Linked DNA regions of Homo sapiens: region 2 is linked to region 1. The links come from fine-mapping of genetic effects on gene expression. A gene starts in region 1. The other region holds a variant in brackets. All regions are shown on one strand. Distances are between the middles of the regions.

Region 1 (11,514 bases):
ATAGTATACTCCACTCACATAAATTTCAAAAACAAGCACAACTGATCTCTAGTATTAAAAGACAGGAATGGGGTGGGAGAAGTGGCCCACAGGGGACAGTGCACAAGGGGCTTCCGGTAATGTTCTAGTAATGTTCTCTTTAAGAATCTAGGTGCAAGCCAGCACAGTGGCTCATGCCTATAATACCAACTCTCTGGGAGGCTGAGGCGGGAGGATCGCTTGAGCCCAGAAATAAGACACTAGCCTAGGCAACATAGGGAGACCGTGTCTCACAAAAAGAAAAAAAAAAAGCCCTTAAAAATGTGCCAGGCATGATGGCACATGTCTATGGTCCCAACTACTCAGGAGGCTGAGGTGAGAGTATCACCTGGGCCTCAAAGTAGGGGCTACAGTGAGCTGTGATTACACCACCACACTCTAGCCTGGGCAACAGAGCCAGATACCTGTCTCAAAAAAAAAAAAAAAATCAATCTGGGTGCTAGTGGCAAAGATATGCTCATTCTGCAAAACTTTATCAAATCCTTATACTTACGATTTGTGCACTTCTATGTATGCGACCGTTGAAAAAGTTTGTATCTATAGGTAAAAAGGGAAGTGGGAGTACTAGTTATGAAAAGTAACACAGAAGATGCCACAAAGAGAAAAAGCATGGGTGATGAGGCAAAAGAGAAAAGAAGTGCCAGAAAGACTGCAGAATGTGTTAGCTCAAGTCATTTAGGACACGAGAGACCTACTATTTACTCAAAGTCCTAATGAACCAAATTAGTTCTGATAACTATTTTGGTAAACTACAGCTACTTGAGAAAGTTTTTCTTAATCCTGGAATTTTCTTCAGCACCTACTGAAATACACAACAAATATATGCCACATGAATAAATAATATGTAAGTGAATCCATTCATAATCTCCCACCCTAATGACTAACAATACTAGTAAATTAGCTGGCCTAGGTTTAGTCTACAACATGGAACTAAGTTTATAAGTTTAGCAGCCTATGCACAAGGGCTCCAAATCTAAAAGCTGTCTGTCCCCCAACCAAATGAGCTAAATGGCACAGGTAAACCTACATAAGAATTATCCCCGGCTCCAAAAGGAAGTAGCATTACTTTTTCCTAAAAAATTAAATGCATTATCTCAACATTGTCTATAAAGCAGTCACTCCACCCAGTTCTCATCACTCTGTAGTTCCTTACCCTTCTCTAAATTCTTCGTAGCACTTGTCGCCAGCTGAAATTGTTATTTTTCTGTTAGTTTATTTTCTCTTCCTTTCCATAGTATTTTAAGCTCCGTAAGAACAGGGACCTGGTCTGTCTTTATACCACTGTACACCAAGAGCGCAAATGGCTGTGTGCTCAATAAAAACTTGTCAAATGACCACAACTACCCAGGTAATTTACTTTAAGGTCACCAAGTACACATAAGATCAAGTCACCACCAATAAATCAGTAAGTCCAATGAAACAGTAAACACAAAATAAATTATTACTCTGTTCCTGGGTAAAATGATCTTAAATTGTACCAGCTTTCAGCTTGGAAGGTTTGATAAAAGTTTGATTTGGAAGACAGGTAATTTTTATATATTTTTATGGAGAATTTTTATGAAAGACAAACACTACAACAAAAACAATGTCATGAAAGGAGCAAAACCACTGCTGTGGATTACCAGGAAACATGAGTAAGAGGCTTGGGCTTTGCCCAGTGTAGGTACCTTATCTTATTTCTGGGAGTTTTTCTACCTAAAAAGCATCACACGATGATGCCTTTTTGAAGCTTCCAGCAAAGATCATAGCTATGTTGTGTTTTTCCATAAAACTTCTACTAAAGTACTTCATGACAATTCAAGAGATTTTTGGTTGTCAGGGTATCTAAATTTAAGGGGGGAATGGATAGTTCAAAGCTACAACTGCAAAAAACTGGTAAATTCTCAAACAAGAGAAACGTATTACACACAAAACAGCTGCTTCTTCAACACTTCCAATTCAATATCCTGAATACCAAATTTTTTCAAAGATAATTATTTCTACACAATTTTATTCTACACCTAAAGTAATTTCCTCACTCATACTTGTGTATAAAAGCTCCAAAAACAGTCAGCTTTTCAGAGGGGCAGTATTCAAATAAACATGGATGAAATAAAACATGATCTCAACACAGCGATACATTTCTGGAGCTGAAGACCAGAAAGTTCTAAACCTATGGTAATTAGCCAAAGTAAAAATTTTCCAATTTTGCAAATGAATGTGATTAAGCAGTAGCTGAAAGTAAAAATGCAGGACTACTATCAAGGGAACACTAATCAACAACTATATTCAGCAATGTCTTGGTAATTTTTATTTTACAATTAAGGTAACATTGAATGCAGAGAAATAACAAGACAAGAAAAGTAAAATTAAATCACCAAGTCTAGGAAGCTACTCTGCCCAATCTTGAGAAATGCAACTTAACAAAACAACAGTTAGGGGCTGGGCAAATCCCAGCACTTTGGGAGGCCAATGGAGGAGGATCCCTTGAGGCCAGGAATTCAAGACCAACCTGAGCAACATAGCAAGACCTTGTCTCTTCATTTAAAAAAAAAAAAAAAAAACCACCACCACAACAAAAAAAACATCAGCTGGAAGTGTAGGAAGGTGGAAAATACAAAGAAAAAAAAAACACACACAGTTGGGTACATTCATGCATTTGTAGTTTTTTTCTTCTACTTTTAAAAGCCGGTATCCTCTTTCTTGAGACTGGCAAAGCAGGATGGGAAATACTACTTTACCACTTAAGAAAGGGATAGTGTTTCTCCCCCAGCCACTTGCCACCTTACACACACATTCTAACATGCACTTTTATTTTCTACCTTGAAAGGCTCAGGGTACATCAGCATGGTAGGGAAGCAACCTGTTGCCCATGACTTCTCCATTCTGTTCTGTTAGACTTACAGAACGGATATAACGAAACCATTTGACATGATGGAAATGTTCTAAAACTGGGTTGCCGTGATGGCTGCACAACTCTTTAAAATGACTAGAAATCACTGATTTGCAGACTTACAATGGGTGTTATAAGTAAATTATCACTCACTCCTGCAAGGCAGAAAGATCACTTGAGGTTAGGAGTTCAAGACCAGCCTGGTCAACAGGGCGAAACCTTGTCTCTACAAAAATTACAAAACTTTGCCGGATGTGATGGTGCACACCCGTAGTCCCAGCTACTCAGGAGGTTCAGGTGGAAGAATCGCTTGAGCCACGGAGGTTGAGGCTGTAGTGAGCCATGAGCATGCCACTGCACTCCAGCCTGGGTGACAGAGAAAGACCCTGTCTCCAAACAAAAGGATATATATATAACCAGAAAAGGCACAAAGAGTGGACAGTCTAGTTAGAAAAACAAGTTTATCAAAAAACCAAAGACACCCAACACATACTGATAATACATCTAAAATATAGATCTCTCCTGCTGCCCCTGAACCTCCACACAGCCTAGGCCACCTTCTTCCCTTAACAGATTCCTTAAGACCATCTCACCTTTCATTCTGCTCTATTGCTGCTCCAAAAAGAAAAAAAAGACCTCATTCTCAATCACCTTAACAATTCCACCTGCAGAACTAAAAATATCTGACGTACATGGTAATAGTGAAAAGGTGACAGGTGATTTTTTAATTCTCCTTGTCCAAAAGAAGTGGAGAAGAAGGAATCCTTCTAACTGATTCCCTAAGCCAGACCCCTGCTTCCGTACAGCCTTTATAATTGGAATTATGGTCATTCCCATACACGGCTTATCAACATTTTAACACTCCCCTCTCCTCTCTCCAATCCCTTCAGCAGCATCTTTCATATCCTACGAATTTAATAAGTGTTCTTCAGACGAATGGCAGTATTTTCCCAATCACATCAGCAATATCAATTCTACCCTCAAAGGGCAAATATAGTTCTCTATCATACTGGCCTACCACTAAGTCATAGGTGGTTTCCTTGGTTGACTGGTAGATGAAGGTGACAGTGATGAGAATGATCAAAAACTGCAAAATAACCACCGGCTAGCCAACTAGCTAGAATTGTTAAAATACATAACACCAGCTCAGAGCAATAAAATACAATTTCTGTGCCACGAAACAAATTATTCTAAAAATCACAAATATTGCCTATTACCCAGCATCCAAAACACAAGTTTTCTACTGCCATCAATCTATACCAAGTCTGATTAAAACTACACAAGATAGAAAATGTCAAGTTCATACTCAAACTTTTGAGGTACAAAAAAAATACAAGAGGGCCAAGAAAAAAACATGGCAGTAACCAGTATCACAAAGGGATTAACCAACAGTTAACACACAAGACAGGATAGGATGAAAACCTGTCAAACTCACTTCTCCACATAAAACCTGTTCATAATGTAGGAAAACCAAAACGTTATTTGCATTCCAACCAACGATGACTTCTGAATAGATCTAAAACACCAAAATATTGACAATAACCAAAATGAAACCAACTGTGGCCAGCTAAGAGTGTCATGAATGCACACAGTTTTCAGTCCTCACACCTGTTAAATCTGTATTCAAATTCTATTAAATGACATCAGAAAATTACTCGAAGACCCTTAAAGTAGACGCCTTTCCCTGTTCCTGAATAGACTCTAAAATATTTTCACTGTAAATAATTCAGTAGTTTTAACTAAGTTTCAACAGTCATCTGCGGCTCTGAAAAAACTTTAAACATACATACATACCTTTTTTAAAAGTCAACACCTTCCATGTGCTTCCGAAAAATTGATGAGTAAGGTTTTTTAAAATACATGTTAAAAGCTGAAATGCACTTCATTATGAGATAATCATTCCCAGCGATAAATCAGACATAAACTTTTGAATTTGGTTTACGTTTCTCTTCACCAGTAATGTTCTCAAGTTCTTAGGAGTTTCCTAATCATTTACTTGAACACCATCTACGGTAACACTCAAAGCAAAACCACAATAAAGAGGTTTGGCCTCTGAGGGCTTCTACATGTAAAAAACATTACTCATAAATAATATACAATCACTACTGCTTTAAATAACAAATACATTTCTAAAAACTTTCATGCCATTTGATGGAATTCCCTATTTTAGACAGCAAAACAAAATCTATGAAACTACTGATGCGTGTTTTTTACTTTAGATATATTCCATGATAATACAAAACACCGACAAAAATTTCTTAAAACAACGTATGGAGTAATATTTTTAGTTTTTGATTATTTTTATTCAAAGGTATCATCATTTAAAGAGTGCAATTCACAGAAACAATAATTAGGCCAATTAATCTCAGAGTTAGATTATTTTAGGTTGCCCAATAATCCTATTTAATCCCAAGTATAAATAAACCAATGAAACCTTAACATGACATATTCATCTAATCAAAGAACAATATCCAGTTGGAACTGTGAAGTACTACTACACAGTCACACTGAAATGTCACCAATTCAAAAATAAGTACCTGATAAAATGAGACTTTTGGCAATCAACTGTAATGTTCTAAAGGATCCACCAAAAACTCATTCTTGTCTCACACACACACCCAATGCCTGTTCATTAAATGACACCAAGAACAGTTTAACTTCAAACTCTAACGCCAATGAAACAAATTCAGACATAAATTAAAAGATGACCAAAAGACTACATGAGTCTTGACATTTTATCCAAGTATTTATGAATGTTAAATCTAAAGTAGTTAACTCGTTTTAACATCACATGCAGTTTACGACCTTCATCAAAATGAAAAGGAATTCTTTCAACATTCTTTTCATCATCACAGAGCTTTAAACACAAACTTCCACAGTCACTGCTCATTTCACCATTTTACAAAATCGTCCCCCATCACCACCCCACATAAGCTAGTCAAAGAAAAAAAAAACTGACAGCTCAGTCTCCCACAAAATGCACTTACTTTATCAAATACCGACATTTATTTTCAAGTGCAAGAAAGTAACAGACATTTGCAGCTCAAGACAGGAAAAGCACAGCCAGCCTTACTACCCCCACTAAATTTCTCAGACAAGAGAAAAGTAACTCGGGACAGGCAAATTAAAACCATTCTACACATGGCAAAAATATAAAACATCTATGTCCTACAATCCATAGCGATAGTACTGCTTCCTCTCTTCCCCAGCCAATACCAATAAGCCAATAGACACAAGTGTCAAATAAATCCAGTGTCCGTTTGAAATAAAATGAAAACCTGGAAAAATTCCCTCCCATAAATCATTTAGCGAACACAAGGCTTTTCACCCAACACTTAATACACTCAACCCAAAAACACACACAACCCACCCGCAAATACAAAAAAAGCCGTAATCAACAAGTTGGAAAAAGGGCAGAAAGTAAGGCTCACTACCCTCTCACTTAAAAAAAAAAAAAAAAAGTCCTTTAACAAAAGGTAACACAGATCTTCAAGTACCTGGTGGAGGTGCCTTTCCTCACATCGCAGATGCTGCATTTAAAGGCTTCAGCACTGTTTCTGAAGGTGCAGACGCTACAATCCCAAAACCCTTCGTCTGCGGCAGGTTTCGCTTGTCTTTTTGGCCTTCCGAGGAGTGGAGAGTGGGGGAAAAGGGAGGGAAGAGGCAGGGAGCAGGAAAACGGGGGAGAGACAGCAAAACACAGACGCGGGTGAGCCGTCGTAATTTCGCAGGAATCCAGTGCTGGAAACTTCGCTCGGGAGACCACCCACCCACCCTTTCCGGGGACTGGAAGAGAGAGCGAGGAAGGGAACCGGGCGCCCCCACTGGCACCCTGCAAGCCCCGGGCCCGGGCCGGATAGCCTCGCACACCAGGCGGTGGCGGCGGCGCCCCGGGAAGGGCCGCGGCGGGCGCAGGAAGCGGGCGGACTTGTGGACTTGAGCGTGGGGCTGGGGGGGCCGGGAGGGGAGCCGCGGGCCGGATCTGGAGGGGGCGCGCAGGGGCAGCCCGAGGCCGGCGACGGGGAGTGGGCCGGCTCCTTCCCTCTCCACTCCCAAGCTCGCGCCCTCCCTCCCTCCCCACCTGGTTAAATCCATCACAGTCTCCGGACGAGACTAGTCCCCGCCAGCGCCGCCTCCGCCGAGTGACTGACGAGGGGCGGGGCCTGGCGCCGCGCGTCACGCGCCGTGCGGCCAATGGGAGGGCGGCGGCCGGCGCCGCGAGGGCGGAGGCGGGGCGCGGGGGAAGGCGGGGCGTGGCGGACGTGGGCCGGGCGGTCGGTGTGCGTGCCCGGGAGTGTGTGCGCGCTGGGGGCGCGCGTGCCTGTCGGTGGCCCCGCGGCCCGGCGCGGCGGAGCGTGCAAGCCCGGCGGGGCGCACGTGGCCGCGCCCGGGAGCTGGCAACTGGCTTCGGGCCCCGCACGGCGCCCCGTGAGGCTGTTGCCGGGACCCCGGCCCCGAAGCCGCCCCGGGGAAGTAGTTCCACGCAGTTTGCGCGCGCCGCGGGAGCTTGCAACAGCCTCACCGCTCGCAGCGCCTCGAGGCTTGCAGTGCCCAGGGGCCGACAAGGTCCACCTTTGGACCGCGTTCCCCCGCGCCCCTCTGTTCCTCTGCCATGCGGAGCTTTGTATTTGCCTCTTCTGAAGTCCCTGCGTCCGGCCGAGACGCTGGCCCGAAGCCCCACTCCCTGTCAGGCCCCTGTCGCGGGAGGGAACAGTAGAGAAAGGGCGTGGCATAACTAAATGCCCCCAGGCCAGACTCTGAGCTTCTGCTGGCGGACTCCTCCTGGGATCCTCCTCTCCCCTAGAGTCTAAATAGGGCGTTTCCTTAGGGAAGTTGCTATTCAAATTCTGGCGACCACATGCCCGCATTAAAACCTCGTGCCTCAGCTCCTTCATCTCCAAAATGGGGCTCATCCTCCCAGGGTTGTTTTGAATATTCGGAGAAATCAGGCATGGAAGGTTCGCTGATGGATGCCTGGTATTCACGAAGGACCAAAACAAGATATTGGGTATTAGGAGCTATTATAACTGGGCCTGAATTGTGCACCATTTCCCCCGCGTTCGATTTTTGAAGTCGAGGAACAGGGTAGTGCCCTTCACTTTCTGCCCTGCTCCAAAAACGCTTGCCAAATTGACTTGAACGTGACTCAGGACCCTCTGTCCTCAGGCAGGGAGATCTGGTAGGAGGACGACCCCAGATGATAAAAGACACAGACGCGGCTGTGCTGAAGCCCCAGGTTAGGGGAGGGACGGAGTCTTAGAATGCTGCTAGGAGTTGGGGCCCGGGGGTGGGGGGATTGGAGTTAAGACAGACCCTCAGCCAGGTTTATATGCAAATATAAAATAGGTTGTTATCAGGACTGCCCCATGGAAGGGAAGCATATCAGGGCTTGCCACCAGGGAAGCTCACTGAGACTGAGCACCCAGGGAGCAGAAATTCCTAGAGATCAGTCCAGGGATCAGAAGGGAGAGAATAAAAGAGAGAATGAATGTGTCAACAATAAGTTTGATCAGCACGCAGTGTCCTCTCCAGGCAGGCGCACCCAGGAGGGCCAGGAGAAGCAACACTGTTTAGCAAGGGTCAGCAACCTCTCAAGGCCTCAATGCCACAGCTGCCTCCTTAGGGGAGGGATGAAAGAAGGAAGAGGAAGAGAGAGGGATAGCGTTCTAGGGGTAAAAGGGCCGTAGAAAGCCAAAGGGTACGTACACAAGCCATGGCCCAGTGCAGCTGCGCCATGGAGCAGCCTTGGCCTCTGGTGTCTCCCTGGCATGCTCCCAGGACTCTGCCCCTGGCATGAAGGTCGTGACAGAAACGGGGCACTAAGAAATCCTCACTGGAAGAGTGGCCTCCGGGGAGGTAGCTGGGAGCCATAGTAGTGGAAAGGAGACTTTGTTATTATTCTATACATAGAATAAAATACACAAATTTTCACACTGCAGCTTAGTGCATACATCTACACCCCTCTTTCCACCATTAGAACAATAAAACATTTTATCCTCCCAATGAGTCATCCCTCACTTAGGTAACCACAATTCCGACTTCTGTCACCAAAGATTAGTTTTGCCTGTTCTTTAAGGTCATATGCAGGGGTCATATGGTCTGTACTCTTGTGTCTGGCTGGCACCTTTCGCTCAGCATATTTGTGATATCCATCCACGTTGTTGCCTACATCAATAGTTCATTTTTGTTTGCTTAAGTGTGTAGAATTCCATTGCAAATACACTGTAATTTATCCATAGGAGGTTGACTGTTTTAGTATGTCGTTTTGTATCTTTGTCTTGTGTTATCTTTTCAAAAAAGAAAAAGTTTTTAAAAATGTGTTTAAGAAGGGCCAGGCACGGTGGCTCACACCTGTAATCCCAGCAGTTTGGGAGGCCGAGTGGGTGGATCACCTGAGGTCAGGAGTTCGAGACCAGCCTGGCCAACATGGTGAAACCCTGTCTCTACTAAAAATAAAAAAAAAATAGCCGGGCGTGGTGATGGGCGCCTGTAATCCCAGCTACTCGGTAGGCTGAGGCAGGAGAATTGTTGGAACCAGGGAGACGGAGGTTGCAGTGAGCCAAGATTGCACCATTGCACTCCAGCCTGGGCGACAGAGCAGGACTCCGTCTAAAAAAAAAAAAACCAAAAAATCAAAAAAATGTGTTTAAGAAAAACAATTTCAGAGTAGAGAACTATCTCTAGGAACTTATCAGACCCAAGGATCACCATGTGGTTGTAACTTTAGAGGCTCTAATTTCATTCAGATGTTGGAGGCAAATATCTATTGAAAGTCTCCTTGTAGTTGTATGAGTCAAATGGGACTATTTCTGGTACAGTGTGCTCCAGAGTGCTGTGGCTCTAGGCAGAGCGTACTGTGATTCTGGAGTGGGGTTTAGAGGCTGAGCTGGGTGGGGAACTAATTTTCCTCTAAGATGTCATCTTGGACCAGTATGGGGTGAGAGTAACAGTGAGAGTTGCCAGCCAGTCCCTGCTCCTCTGTTTCCTCCCTTGAACCTCCATTTCATATTTCATTTGACAAAAGGGTTCTACTGCTTTAAAAATTATTTGATTGAGAGGCCGAGGCAAATGTTTCACTTGAGGCCAAGAGTTTGAGACCAGCCTGGCCAACATGGTGAAGCCCTGTCTCTACTAAAAATACAAAAATTAGCCGGGCATGGTGGTGCACTCCTGTAGTCTCAGCTACTTGGGAGGCTGAGGTGTGAAGATCACTTGAGCACAGTAGGCGGAGGTTGTAGTGAGATGAGATCACACCACTGCACTCCCGCCTGGGCAACAGAGTGAGACTCTGCTTCAAAGAGAAAAAAAAAATTGTTTGAAACCCGTGGTTTTAGTGTAGATGCTGGTTAGAAGCACTGGCCAAGAAATGTCCAGTATAAATGTTTCCACAGATACATAAGACACATTCGAAGTCTACATTTTGACTTCCTTCCCCTCATTCGCTTCACTCACACCGGCTTCCTGGCTGTTCCTAAAACAGTTCCCTACCTTCAGGGCCTCAGAGCCTTCACACTTACTGCTTCCTTGGCTTGGAATGCTCTTTGCGCAGATACCCACATTCATTGTCAGCTGCCTCAATTCCTTCAGGTCTTTACGCAAAAGTCAATTCCTCACTGAGATTTTCCCTGGTCACGCAATCTACATCTGCATGTGTTTTGTTTCTTTTCCTTTCCTTTTCTTTTTTTTTTTTTTTTTTTTTTTGGAGACAGAGTCTTGCTCTGTTACCCAGGCTGGAGTGCAGTGGCAGGATCACAGCACGGCTCACTATAGCCTCAACCTCCTGAACTCAGACAATCCTTCCACCTCAGCCTCCTGGGTAGCTGAGACTACAGGCATGTAATACCACACCCAGCTAATTTTTCTTTTTTTTTCTTTTTTTTTTTTTTAAGTAGAGAGAGGGTTTCACCATGTTGCCCGGGCTGGTCTGGAGCTCCTGGGCTCAAGAGATCCTCCGGCCTCAGCTTCCCAAGTTGCTGGGATTATTGGCGTGAGGCACTGCACCCGGCCCAATCTAAAAATTTCATACACCAACCCACAACCTGATGTCCCATGTCCCTCTGTCCTGCTCTACTTTTCTCTCCTTAGCATACCCTACATTTGGCTCTTATAATGAGGAGACTTTTTCTCTAATGTACCCCACAGTTCAGTTATCTTGTTTAAGCAGATCCTTGCCCCAGTAGAATATATGCTTCATGATGGCAGGGATTTTATTTTTCTGCTGTGTTCCCCCCACCATCCCACCTAGTATATATCAAGTGCCTAGAACACTGACTAGTGTACATTCGTTGAAAAAAAAATCTCTTTCATTTAACAATATATTGAGTAGCAACTAGCTATCATGCTCATGCCAGGGAATGGAAGATCAGATAAACAAAATAGACTTCATTCCTAATCTTTTGGAGTTTACCTCCTAGTTGAGGAGCCAGACATTATACAAGTAATTACAATTGTGACAATTGCTACAAAGACAAAATACGAGATGAGAGGTGAGAGGGTGCTAAGAGAGGGAGGTTGTTGATGTAGCCGGTGGAGCCGGGAACTCCCCTGAAAAAGTTAAGTTGCCCACAAGAAAAAAAGGCAAAAGCAGTCAGGTGTCTGGTGCT
Region 2 (11,514 bases), 140 kb after region 1:
TGCCCAGATAATTTGAGAAGCACTGTTCTACACTGTTCCTAGGGCAACAAGACAAATGTGTGTGGGGTCTCAGTGTGTGCGTATGTGTGTGTGTGGTGTTTGTGGAGTGGGTGACAACAGGAAAGGGAAGAATTTAGAAGGTAAACTTGGCTGAATCTGCATTCGCAGGGAAGCTTTTCCATATGAAAACGTCAAAAGACTTTCTCAGAATCAAATACGCCAGAATAAACAGCTTATAGAATGGTCTTCTGAACCTGATGTCCCCAAAGGGAGAATAAATTGCAGCTATTAAGATCATCCTATTCATTTAACTGACCGAGACAGCCCCATGCACGTGGTGGCCCATGCCATAAAAATGTGTCTCTCTCAAAAAACAAACAAACAAAACACCAAAATTTTGATAAATGATTATTTATCTTGAATGCAAAATAAATAAATAAAGCATCTTTCTCACTTACTTTGGAGACATGATTTTTAAATTTGTTTCCTAACTTTCCCCAATCTGGCTTCCATTAGAGAACTATTCCCAAATTAACCTCTGTGCCCTCTCAAGTAAAGAATGCAAGAGATTTCTACCAGCTATTTTCTCCCATTTCGAACATGCCACGTGTGTTTAACAGCAGGCAGAGATTTCCAGGCTAGAAGTGGTAGTAAAGGGATCTTTTAGCAACTGTTCTTTGAAAATCGGCACAGTTTTTTTTTTAATGACAGGCACCCCTTTTGCCCCAAAAGGTCTCTCACATTGCTATCCTGAGCCAAATGTTTAATTGATGCTAAGGAATTTTACATTCAGTCACCTTCCAAGTGCTGAGCAAATGAAGTGCCAATAGGCTATGTGATGGGGGACCAGGGTAAAGATTGAACTTTATCTGTGCTCGTGAGGAGAGATCAGATAAGTCACCAGTGGCTTCAGCAACAATGAGTTATCATTCGCCACACTTGTGAAGGAAAAGGTCAAAGCACACGGTGGTGAACATGCATTTGAGGCCCCAGAAACGGTTTTCTTAGCCACGGCCTCCGGAATCACACACACTGGGTTATTTCTTTGAAGGCAGAGCTAAACATATGTAGCGGAAAAGTTCAGGGTTCAAAGTGTAATTTCAAAAACAAAGAACCAAGTTTCCCACTTAAACATCTAGGTAAATGGACACAGGCCATGAGCTTAGAAGCAAAGGCACATCTTTTCTGCACAGACTGCCAAAATGCCGCTGAATCTTCCTCCCGAGAGCCATACCCTAGGTCCACACCCTTCTATACTCACTCTGGGCTTACTGTGAGGTTTGATTCGATTGATGGGAAAGCAGCAAATGTGGCCCAGGTAGAGATTTCTTTTTTTTTTTTGAGACAGGGTTTCACTGTGTCGCCCAGGCTGGAGTACAGAGGCACAGTCTCAGCTCACTAAAGCCTCAACCTCCCAGGCTCAAGTGATCCTCCCACCTCAGCCTCCCAATTAGCTGGGACTACAGGCATAGGCCACCATGACCAGCTAATTTTTCTATTTTTTGTAGAGATGGAGTTTCACCATGTTGCCTAGCCTGGTCTCCAACTCCTGGGCTCAAGTGATCTGCCCACATCAGCCTCCCAAAGTGCTGGGATTACAGGCATGAATCACTGTGCCCAGCCCCGCAAGTAGAGCTTTGAATAGTACTGTACCTTGGCACTTGCCCTTGTTTGCTGCTCGTTGGAACCCTGAGTCCACCATATGAACAAGCCTGAGTTAGCCACCTGGAGGATGAGAGGCTACCTGGAGCAGAGATGAGCCCTCCCAACTGAAGCCCTTCAGGACCAGTTAGCCTGCTTAATGCCGGATAGGTGAGTGAGGCCATGCTAGATCATACAGCCCCAGCCGAGCCACCAGCTGCCCATGGAGATCAGCCACATACCCCACACAAGAGGAACCACCCAACTGACCCATGGGATCATAAAAAATAATAACTGTCATTTTAAGCCTATGATAAGGTAGTTTGCTACACAGGAAAAGCCAACTGATATGCATTCATTCATTTATTCATTCATCCACTTATTTATTTAACAAATATGTGTTGAGAGCCTTCTGTTGGCTCACTGTGCTAGGCAGAAAGGCAACTGAAAGAGGCCATGAGCTCCTTAAAGCCAAGGATATAGCTTATTTGTCTCTGTTTTCCAGGCCTGGCACACTCCAGCATATATATAGGAGGTGCTCAAAAACTTTATCTAATAAACACATGAATTGGAATTAATCCCAAGGGGACAATTATAGATCTCAAGCTTTAAAAGTGCAGATTGCTTGACTCAGCAATTCCACTTCTGAGAATTTAATGTAAGGAAATATTACAAGAATGTCCTATCATAGCCTCGTTTACAGTGGCTTCATTGGATTTGGTTGAAAACACAATGGTGGCAATAGCAGTGTAGTCTCTGTGACAATTTGGTTGAAAAGAATATTGCAATCATGGGTGCAGGTAATTTCGATCCCCTGTGGAGTAGCTTTATGACCTTTTTGTTCCTTTAGACAAAAAAAAAAAAGTTAAGTATCTTTCAGAATTTGGGGGATTTCATTCTCCTCTACTTTTAAAATTTCTAATTCCCTTTCAGACAATTAAATATGCTCTGGTCTGCTAATAATAAGAAGAAACAAATTGTTTTATGTCTGTCAATAGGGAGTTGGTTAAAGGACAGCGCAAGCATACGATGGGTGTGCCTCATTTTAAGGGATATGGTAGAGACAGGATAGAGCTGTATGCCTCTGTTTACATCAAAAGGTGGTCATTATGTCCATCAGGGTTCTCCAGGGAAACAGAATTCAGAAAGAGAGAGAGAGATTTTAAGGAATTGGCTTACATGATTGGCGGAGTCTGCCAAGTCTGAAATTTGTAGGGTAGGCTGGCAGGCTAGAAACCCAGACAAGAGTTGATGTTATATCCCAGTCTGAAATCTGCAGGCTGTCAGGCTGGAAACTGAGGAAGATTTCCATGATCCTTCCTCTCCAAGAAACCTCAGTTTCGGCTCTAAGACCTTCACATGATTGGATGAAGCCCACCCACATTATCAAAGGTAATCTCCTTTATTTATAGTCAGCTGATTGTAGATGCGCATTACCTCTGTGAAATACCTTCATAGCAGCATCTAGATTGGTGTTTGACCAAACAACTGTGCACCATAACCTAGCCAAGGTAACGCATAAAATTTAACCATCGCTGTCATAAGTTGGAAAAAAAAATCAACTAAAAAATAGAATAATTTGGTTCTATTTTTAAAGAGGAAAATTATAACATATCTATAGAAAAGAAATTAGGAAAGGTCCGCACCAATATGTTAACAATGATTGTCTCTGGGAGGGTCTGATTGCTGGTCTCTCTCCTCTCTGCTGGTCTGGTTTTCCTGTTTTGCCTGAAAAGAGAAAGCCTAGCTATTGAAAGAAAACAAATAAAAGGAACAAAGAATTAAAGAACCTTGTCAATGCCCTTCAGCCAAAGACCACCCAGGAACACACCTGTTGTTGAACAAGTTGGTTTTGTTACTGGTAGAAACTAGAGAGCATGAATACCATGGGGAACTGTGGTAGTTTCCGTAGAGGGTGTTAGAAAGAATCTATTACAGGATTTGGGCTTTGGTTGAGTGATCTGGCGGAAGGCTTAAGGAAACAGGCTCACTCTAGATTCAGTGCTGTCAGAAAGCAACCACAATTCTAGAATTCAGTATCACAATAAGTCTTACGTATACGGAAGGCAAACTAAATCAAGGATAAAGCTGTAATTGACAAAGAAGCAACAGTCACTCGTGTTTGGTGAGAAAAAGAGATGTTTGGTATCTTATGGGTTACACAATGACCTTCTTTTCAGTTTACTTTATCCTGGTTGCAGAGTGACCTTGTCTGTGTTCTATGAGATTGTGTCTGTCCAACAGCAGAACACCATGGCCCTGCTGTATCACACTGGTTCCCAGGTGCCAGAGATTACCCTTTTTTTTTTTTTTCCCCCTCTACCTGAATAGGGATAATACTAGGAACTTTACTTGCACCGAAAAAAACAAAAAGTCTGGAGAGGCTTTATTTTCTGTAACTGATTCTTCCTCTGTTTTCTTAGCCATGTTTTCCTGAAAGTATTAATTTAGTAAATTGAACCAGGATTAGTTTTTCAATCACTAGTGCAAATATCATAAATTTTGAGCATTCTATCCAAGACATGAAATGGTGAACACTAGGATCGTTTCCATCTTTTAGGCGATAGTTGCTTCAGTTGCTTCTTTGTTAGTCTAATCCCAAACCAGAGCGTTTTTTTTGTTTTTTTAAAGACAGAGTCTCACTCTGTTGCCCAGGCTAGAATGCAGTGGCACAATGTTGGCTTACACAACCTCTGCTTCCCAGGTGATTCTCCTGCCTCAGCCTCCAAAGTAGTTGGGATTACAGGCGCTGACACCATGCCTGGCTAATTTTTGTATTTTTAGTAGAGACGAGATTTTGCCATGTTGGCCAGGCTGAGTTCGCTGTTGCCTTCATCCAAGCTTAAGTCTTCACACTTTTAGTAAGACTTTACCTACACGACAATACATAATGACCCACCAAACACACGCCTACCACATAGTTAAGCCCAGCCCTTGGCCATTAACAGGAGCTCTCTCAGCCCTCCTAATAACATCTGGCCTAGCTATATGATTTCACTTTAAATCCACTACCCTACTAACACTGGGCCTACTAACCAGCACACTGACCACAGACCAGGCTGGTCTCGAACTCCTAGCCTCAAGTGATCCGCCCACCTCAGCTTCCCAAAGTGCTGGGATTACAGGTGTGAGCCACTGCACCCAGCCACCAGGGCATAATTGACTGGAAATAGGGAGGTGTTGAAAAGAAGAAAACAAAACTTTAGATTTTTTTTTAAATGATTATTTTGCTGAAAGATGCTTAAAGAGTTGGAATATCATTCCAGGCAAAATTTCCCCTTGGCAAACAAAAATTTCCTTTTTGTATAAACATAGTGACTGAGAATTTTCATTATCAACGAATTCAGCATTCCAACCATACTGACAGCTTAATCAATTTGCTTCCAGCCAAATTGCTCTTGACCAAATTGTCTGCTATGATATATAACAGTAAAACATTGGAAATAACCTAAACATCCAACAAGAAGGTTACTGAAGAAAGCCAAATAAACCATGGTTCATCAATACAATAAATGTCATGCATTCACTTAAAGCAACATACATATACATTTCTTTTGAAAGGAGTAAATGAATGCTTCTAAACATTTAGGGAAAGAGTCACATTTACAAATAAGCCCAATTTAGGTTTGGTTGTTGTTTTGTTTTTTGTTTTTTTGAGACAGGATCTCATTCTGTCACCCAGGCTGGAGTGATCACAGATCACTGCAGCCTTGAACTCCTAGGCTCAAGCAATCCTCCCACCTCAGCCTCCCGAGTAGCTGGGACCACAGGTGCACACCACCAAGCTCAGCTAATTTTTAAATTTTTTGTAAAGACAAGGTCACACCAGGTTTCCCATACTGCTCTCAAACTCCTGGGCTCAAGCAGTCCTCCTCCCTTGGCCTC[T/C]CAAAGCACGGGATTACAGATGTGAGCCACCACACTGGCCCCAATTTAATTGTGACCATACGGCAAATTCTAGGAATTTGACCAATAGAGACAGTTCCTCTTTTCTCTTAAATATGACCCACCTTTCACTGTTTGTTCACCAAACCTAATATTTCCTAACTATTCTTTGCTTGGTTTTTTGGAATACAGGAATCAAGTAGAAAGCAAATCTACTCAGTTCTAAACTGGCAGGGGTGGCTGGGTGTGGTGGCTCATGCTTGTAATCCCAGCATTTTGGGAGACCAAAGTGGGAGCATTGCTTGAGCCTGAGAGTTTGAGACCAGCCTGGGCAACACAGCAAGATCCTGTCTTCATTTTTAAAATAAAAAAATAAAATTGCAGGGGTGATTCCAACAATATAGCACCTGGTCCAATGTCCAGGAAGTAGAGGCTGAAATGTCAGCTCATGTCATGTCAACCCAGGAACAGAGCACTTTCTCTGTGAGAAAGATTTTACTCTTTAACTAAGCCATGGTGCCTTCCTTCTCCTGGACTTTGCTTAAAAAAATTTTTTTTGAACAGCTTTATTGAGGTATAATTAACATATAGTAAACTGCACATATTTAAGGCATGCAATACAATGAGTTTTGATTTATTCATACATCGGTGTGATTATAACCACAATCAAGGTAATGAACATAGCCATTCCCCCCAAAAGTTTCCTTGTGTGTCTTCTAATCCTTCCGATATGGTTTGGCTGTGCCCCCACCCAAATCTCATCTTGAATTATAGCTTCCACAATTCCCATGTGTTGTGGGAGGGACCACGCGGGAGATAACTGAATCATGGGGGCAGCTTCCCCCATATTGTCGTGGTAGTGAATGAGTCTCATGAGATCTGATGGTTTTATAAGGGGAAACCCCTTTTGCTTTGCTCTCATTTCTTCTGCCTGCTGCCATGTAACATGTGCCTTTCACCTTCCACCATGATTGTCAGGCCTCCCCAGCCATGTGGAACTGTGAGTCCATTAAATCTCTTTTTTCTTATAAATTACCCAGTCTTGAATATGTCTCTATCAGCAGTGTGAGAACAGACTAATATACCTTCCTTTCCACCTCTTCCCAATCTCCCCTTTGAGCAACCATTGCTTTCTGTCACTATAGATTAGGTTCCATTTTCTAGAGTTTTGTATTGTTGTCAGCATCGGTAACTTATTCCTTTTGACTGCTGAGTAGCAGGACACTGTATGGATGCACAACGTTTTGTTTACGCATTTAGCGACTGAAGGGCACTCGGATTGTTTTCAGTTTGGGGCAATCACACATAAAGCTGCTATAGACATTCGAACATTCTTGTGCAGGTCTTTGCATGGACATCAACTTTCCTTTCTCTTGGGTAAATATCTAAGAGTATAATGGCTGGATCAAATGGTAAGTTTAACTTTTTAAGAAACTGCCAAACTGCCTTCCAAAGTGCTTGCACCATTTAATGTTCCCATCAGCAGTGAGTGGGCATCTGGACTTTGTTTTCAACCCAGAGAGAAGCCTGGGTCTGAGGACCCCAGAAACTGGGTTCTTCTGAGGAGGGCCACACTTTACATAGGCATCTTTAGGAGAGGGCCCTGGAAGAGGTGGGGGACACAGCACTAGGGTGGGAATCAGCCACAGTCCACCAGGAAATTGGGGAGGCCAGTTTTGTCTGAGAGCTGGTGGGCTCTGAATATATTCCACGCTTTCTTTGTCCCAGCCTGGGGAGTGGGGGTGGAAGTAGAGGAGGAAAAGAATTTCAATGAGCTGCTTTTGACTTGATGTCATTTTGTTGGTTTCAATAACTATTTGTTGAAATAATCTGTGCCAAAGGAGGCCAAAAGGGAAGAGGCATAGGACTGGGGTTCAAAGAGCAGACCCTGAAGAGTCCTTGGAGGACGAGGGAGAGTGCGAGAGGCTTAGCAGGGTGGACAGTGATTCTCATTTTACAAAAATGCCCAGTATCGAGATTGCTGCAGTGTTTTCAGTGCTGGGGAAATGACATCCCTAAGGCTTGCATTCTAGATCCTCAAAAAACAAATTGCCCTTTTAAAGTCTCACGGTTAAAGAGATATTTGGTGTCTCTTGAACATGTGGTCGGAGGGTTTTCTGATGGGAATCCTTGGTTGTTTTTAACAAAATAAGCCAGATCCAGAGGCTGCGTGACAGGACCCGGGCACCTCTCAGGCTGTCTTCTCACAGTTTGTCTTCTTTCCTAGCCTAATTTCTAGACTCTCTGCACCTGTGGTCTTTGTTTCACTCCAGCATCACCTTTTCAGCCTCTGCCATTAATTGGACTCATTGAATGCACTGGGCTCATGCCGGCTTCCTAGTTGCTGAATCCAGAGGCCTTTTCTCAGATCTTGTTCTCCTGCTCTCATGGCACCATTTTGATATGGAAGATGGGCAGAGAAGTGCTGGGAAGGGAAGGGCATGGTGCCTGGCTACGGCTCCACCCCCGAGCCTATGGACCTAGGTGAAGACAGGCACTCCTGCCTTCATGCACAAATGTTGCATTTCCCAAGGCCACCCTGGTCGGCCACACCCTGATCCTGTGCTGTAAATAAACCGGAGACCTTAGTGGGTATGCACACAAGAAGTAGCTGAGCCATTGAGCAGAACACACCAGCCGAAGAACACACAAGCAGCTGGACGTCAGGAGCACACTGGCAGGCACCTGCAGGCTGGCAGGCCATCGACCAGCACAACAACATGGAGTTTGGCTGGGGCAGTTGGAGGGGAGCCCCACTGCTGAGCGGCCTGACTCTAGGGGAAAACCACCTTTCCATTCCATCTCCCTTCAGCTCCCCCATCTGCTGAGAGCTACTTCCACTCAATAAAACCTTGCATTCATTCTCCAAGCCCACATGTGATCCGATTCTTCCAGTACACCAAAGCAAGAAACCCTGGGATACAGAAAGCCCTCTGTCCTTGTGATAAGGCAGGGAGTCTAATAGAGCTGACTAACACAAGCCACCTACAAATGGCAAAACTAAAAGAGCACCCCATAACACATGCCCACTGGGGCTTCAGGAGCTATAAGTATTCACCCCTAGATGCTGCCTTGGGATGGGAGCCCCACAGCCTGCCCATCTGCCTGCTCCCCCTAGAGGTTTGAGCAGCGGGGCACTGAAGAAGCGAGCCACACACACCCTGTGAAGGGGACAAGGGAACTTTTCCCATTTCAATATGGTCTTCTCACTCACCTCCTCCCTCTAGACAGCTCTCCTGCCTAGGTCTCCATGGCGCTGTTCTACCTAGCTCTCCTGCTGCAGGTTGACTCCCCTGGTAAGCTGTCTCTAAGATGGAGATGATCAGGGAGTGCTCTCAGCATCACTCCGTGGAGGGAGCAGAGGGAAGCAGGACTGGGAGGGAGAAGCTGAATTGTGAAATAGTCTCAGCAAAGGCCTCAGCCAGCTCCACAGGGACAGGCATTCGGGGCACTGAGTTGGAGCAAAAGAATCAGGTCTTTACACACCCGGTTGATCAGTCGCTGGGGGTGGGCTCCCTGGAAGTAGGCAAGGCTTTGGGCAAGGTGGTGTTATTTAGCCACGGGCCATTCATTCCAACAGTGTTGCCAGCAGCTGGGGGAATCAGTCCCTCCCCAAAAGGGGATCTAGGCAGCACACTACAGTGTCCACAACACCTTCCTTCTCTCCAGCCGCTCCTTCCCTGGTGTAGGTGACCACTTTCCTCTGGTCTCAGGCTATGGCCTTCTGCTCTTCTCTATTTACAATCTCTTTTGTAAAACACTAATAAAGTATTTTATTTACACTTCATACAAGAACAGTAACTAGCATTTATTGGGTGCATCCTATGAGTAGATGCCAGGCACTGTGCTAGGCACTGCCGATATATTATCTCATTCAAGTTCCCAGAAACCCACTGGCATTAGGGGATATCAAAACTCTTTATCACAGCCAAGGAAAGTGCCAGAAGAGTCTTCTTAAAAAAACAAAGCAAAATCCTTTTTCTACCATGTCATCTCCCTCCTAGCTCAAGGCCCTTTGATGGCTCCCAATTACTGTTGGAATAAAAGCCCAGACTCCTAACTCAGCACCCAAAGCCCTCCGAAACCTGTCCTGAGCCTCCCTTTTTACAATTCTTCCTTTTTCCATTCCTGCCAAACCAAGCCCTTCACTAGGACTTTCAGCTGGCCTGCTCCAACCTGCTCCGAGACTAGCTCGGCTTAGCTCTTAACTATGCCTGTCCCTTCCTTTGACAGTCATTCATTCACGTATCTGTTTCCTCATCTATTGTAGACCTAACATATACTAGGCTGTGTGTTGGGCATTGGGGATACAATGCTGAACAGACACAGCCTGTCCTCCGCTTCAGAATCTTAAAATTGTGCAAGAAAGACGAATGTTATTCAAACTTGCCAAATTTTCAGTTATTTATTTATTAATTATTATTATTATTTTTTGAGACAGAGTCTTGCTCTGTCACCCAGGCTGGAGTGCAGTGGAGCAATCTCAGCTCACTGCAACCTCTGCCTCCTGCGTTCAAGCAATCCCCTGCCTCAGCCTCCCAAGTAGCTGGGATTACAGGTGCCCACCACCACGCCCAGCTAATTTTTGTATTTTTAGTAGATATGGGGTTTCACCATGTTGGCCAGGCTGGTCTCAAACTCCTGACCTCAGGTGATCCACCCTCCTTGGCCTCCCAAAGAGCTGGGATTACAGGTGTGAGCCACCATGCCCAGCCTCAAATAGTTATTGAATTCCAGCTTTGACTCAATGCTAAGAGGGGAGCATCAAGGGGTGTTGAAAGCTTAAAAGGGAGCGCTGAGGACCCTTGGTGAGCCAGGTGCTCTTCCAGTGCCCGTGGATGTGGCTGTGTAACTCAGTCGCTTCCCTGCTTTCTTCGTGGGGCCTAACGTAAGTGTTTCTCCTTTTCAGCTCTCCCCTTTCTCCTCTTAATATCTACATTGCCTGTTGCCTCAACTACTCAATCCTGTGCAGCTTTGCTTTCTCAATGTAAAGCGCTGTCGTCTCTCAGGTACATTTTGAGTCTTATGAATGATAGTTATCACTGATTTGAGGACATATCCTGTGCCAAGCAGTCTCTATGCTCTCACACTGTTCAGCAATTGCAATATCCTCACAACCATCCTTCTTCTTCTTCTCATGATCCCATTGTCTTAGTCCCGGAGGAAGTAACCCTGAGACAGGGACTCAGAGCACCTGGTTTACTTGGCAGTTTAAAGAAACATGGGCAGGTCAGTGGGGAGGTCATGGAAGGGAGGGTGTATTATCAGTCAAGTTCACCCTGGGGGAAAACCAGAGCCAAATCCCGCTGGGGAAATTCTGAGAAGTGGCATAGAATGCGTCTCAGAATCACCGTACCCAGGGGGTGAAGGAGTTGGGGTGCTTATTCACCAATTCCCACCAGACGCTGGTTGAGGGCTGTGTGTAGGTGGGAATGGCACTAATTCCTGGGCACTGCTGGCACCTGCAAGGGCAGGCAAAGTGGGCATCGGCAGCCTGAGAAAGCCCCCAGGGGAAGAAATGGAGGTGCCAGAGTACACTGAAGTGGTGAGGACGGAGGGCCTACTACGCCCATATTACAGATAAGTAAACAGAGGCTTCGAGGAGTCAGTCCAAGGTCACATGGCTAGGAACTATCAGAGCCAGGATGAACTGAAGTCTTTCTGGCTCTAAAACAACATAAAATGCCCCTTGAGAGGCATTATCTTATCTTAACCTCCAGTAACCCTTACAGCTCTTTGCACAGGGCTAAGAACCCAGTAAAGAATCCAAAACTGCTTCCTGATTGAGGAGCCTGAACGATGAGGAGCTTCTTAGACCCACAGAATAACAAGGCTTTTTTTCTTTGTTTGTGTTTTTGAGACTGAGTCTCACTCTATTGCCCAGGCTGGAGTGCAGTGGCGTGATCTCGGCTCACTGCAACTTTGGCCTCCTGGGTACAAGCGATTCTCTTGCCTCAGCCTCCTGAGTAGCTGGGACTACAGGTGAACACC

Evidence for each region. PIP is the estimated chance that this variant, and not a neighbour inherited with it, causes the effect.
Region 2: its variant is the best candidate, but not a certain one, in a credible set for the expression of RYBP in whole blood (TOPMed, PIP 0.57).

What each region holds. Positions count from the first base shown.
Region 1 is chr3:72,440,088-72,451,601 of GRCh38, forward strand. It overlaps RYBP (RING1 and YY1 binding protein), which reads right to left and starts at 6,536. Exons shown (of 4, transcript NM_012234.7): 1 at 6,409-6,536. The coding sequence starts at 6,536. RefSeq lists an enhancer at 271-370 and silencers at 6,853-6,912, 6,973-7,382.
Region 2 is chr3:72,578,839-72,590,352 of GRCh38, forward strand. LOC105377161 (a long non-coding RNA gene) reads right to left here. Exons shown (of 11, transcript XR_940962.3): 11 at 3,292-3,369. It also overlaps the pseudogene MTCO3P47. Among named protein-coding and RNA genes, the nearest start is that of RYBP, 140 kb to the left of the region's middle. The variant T/C (reference allele first, on the strand shown) is at 5,527.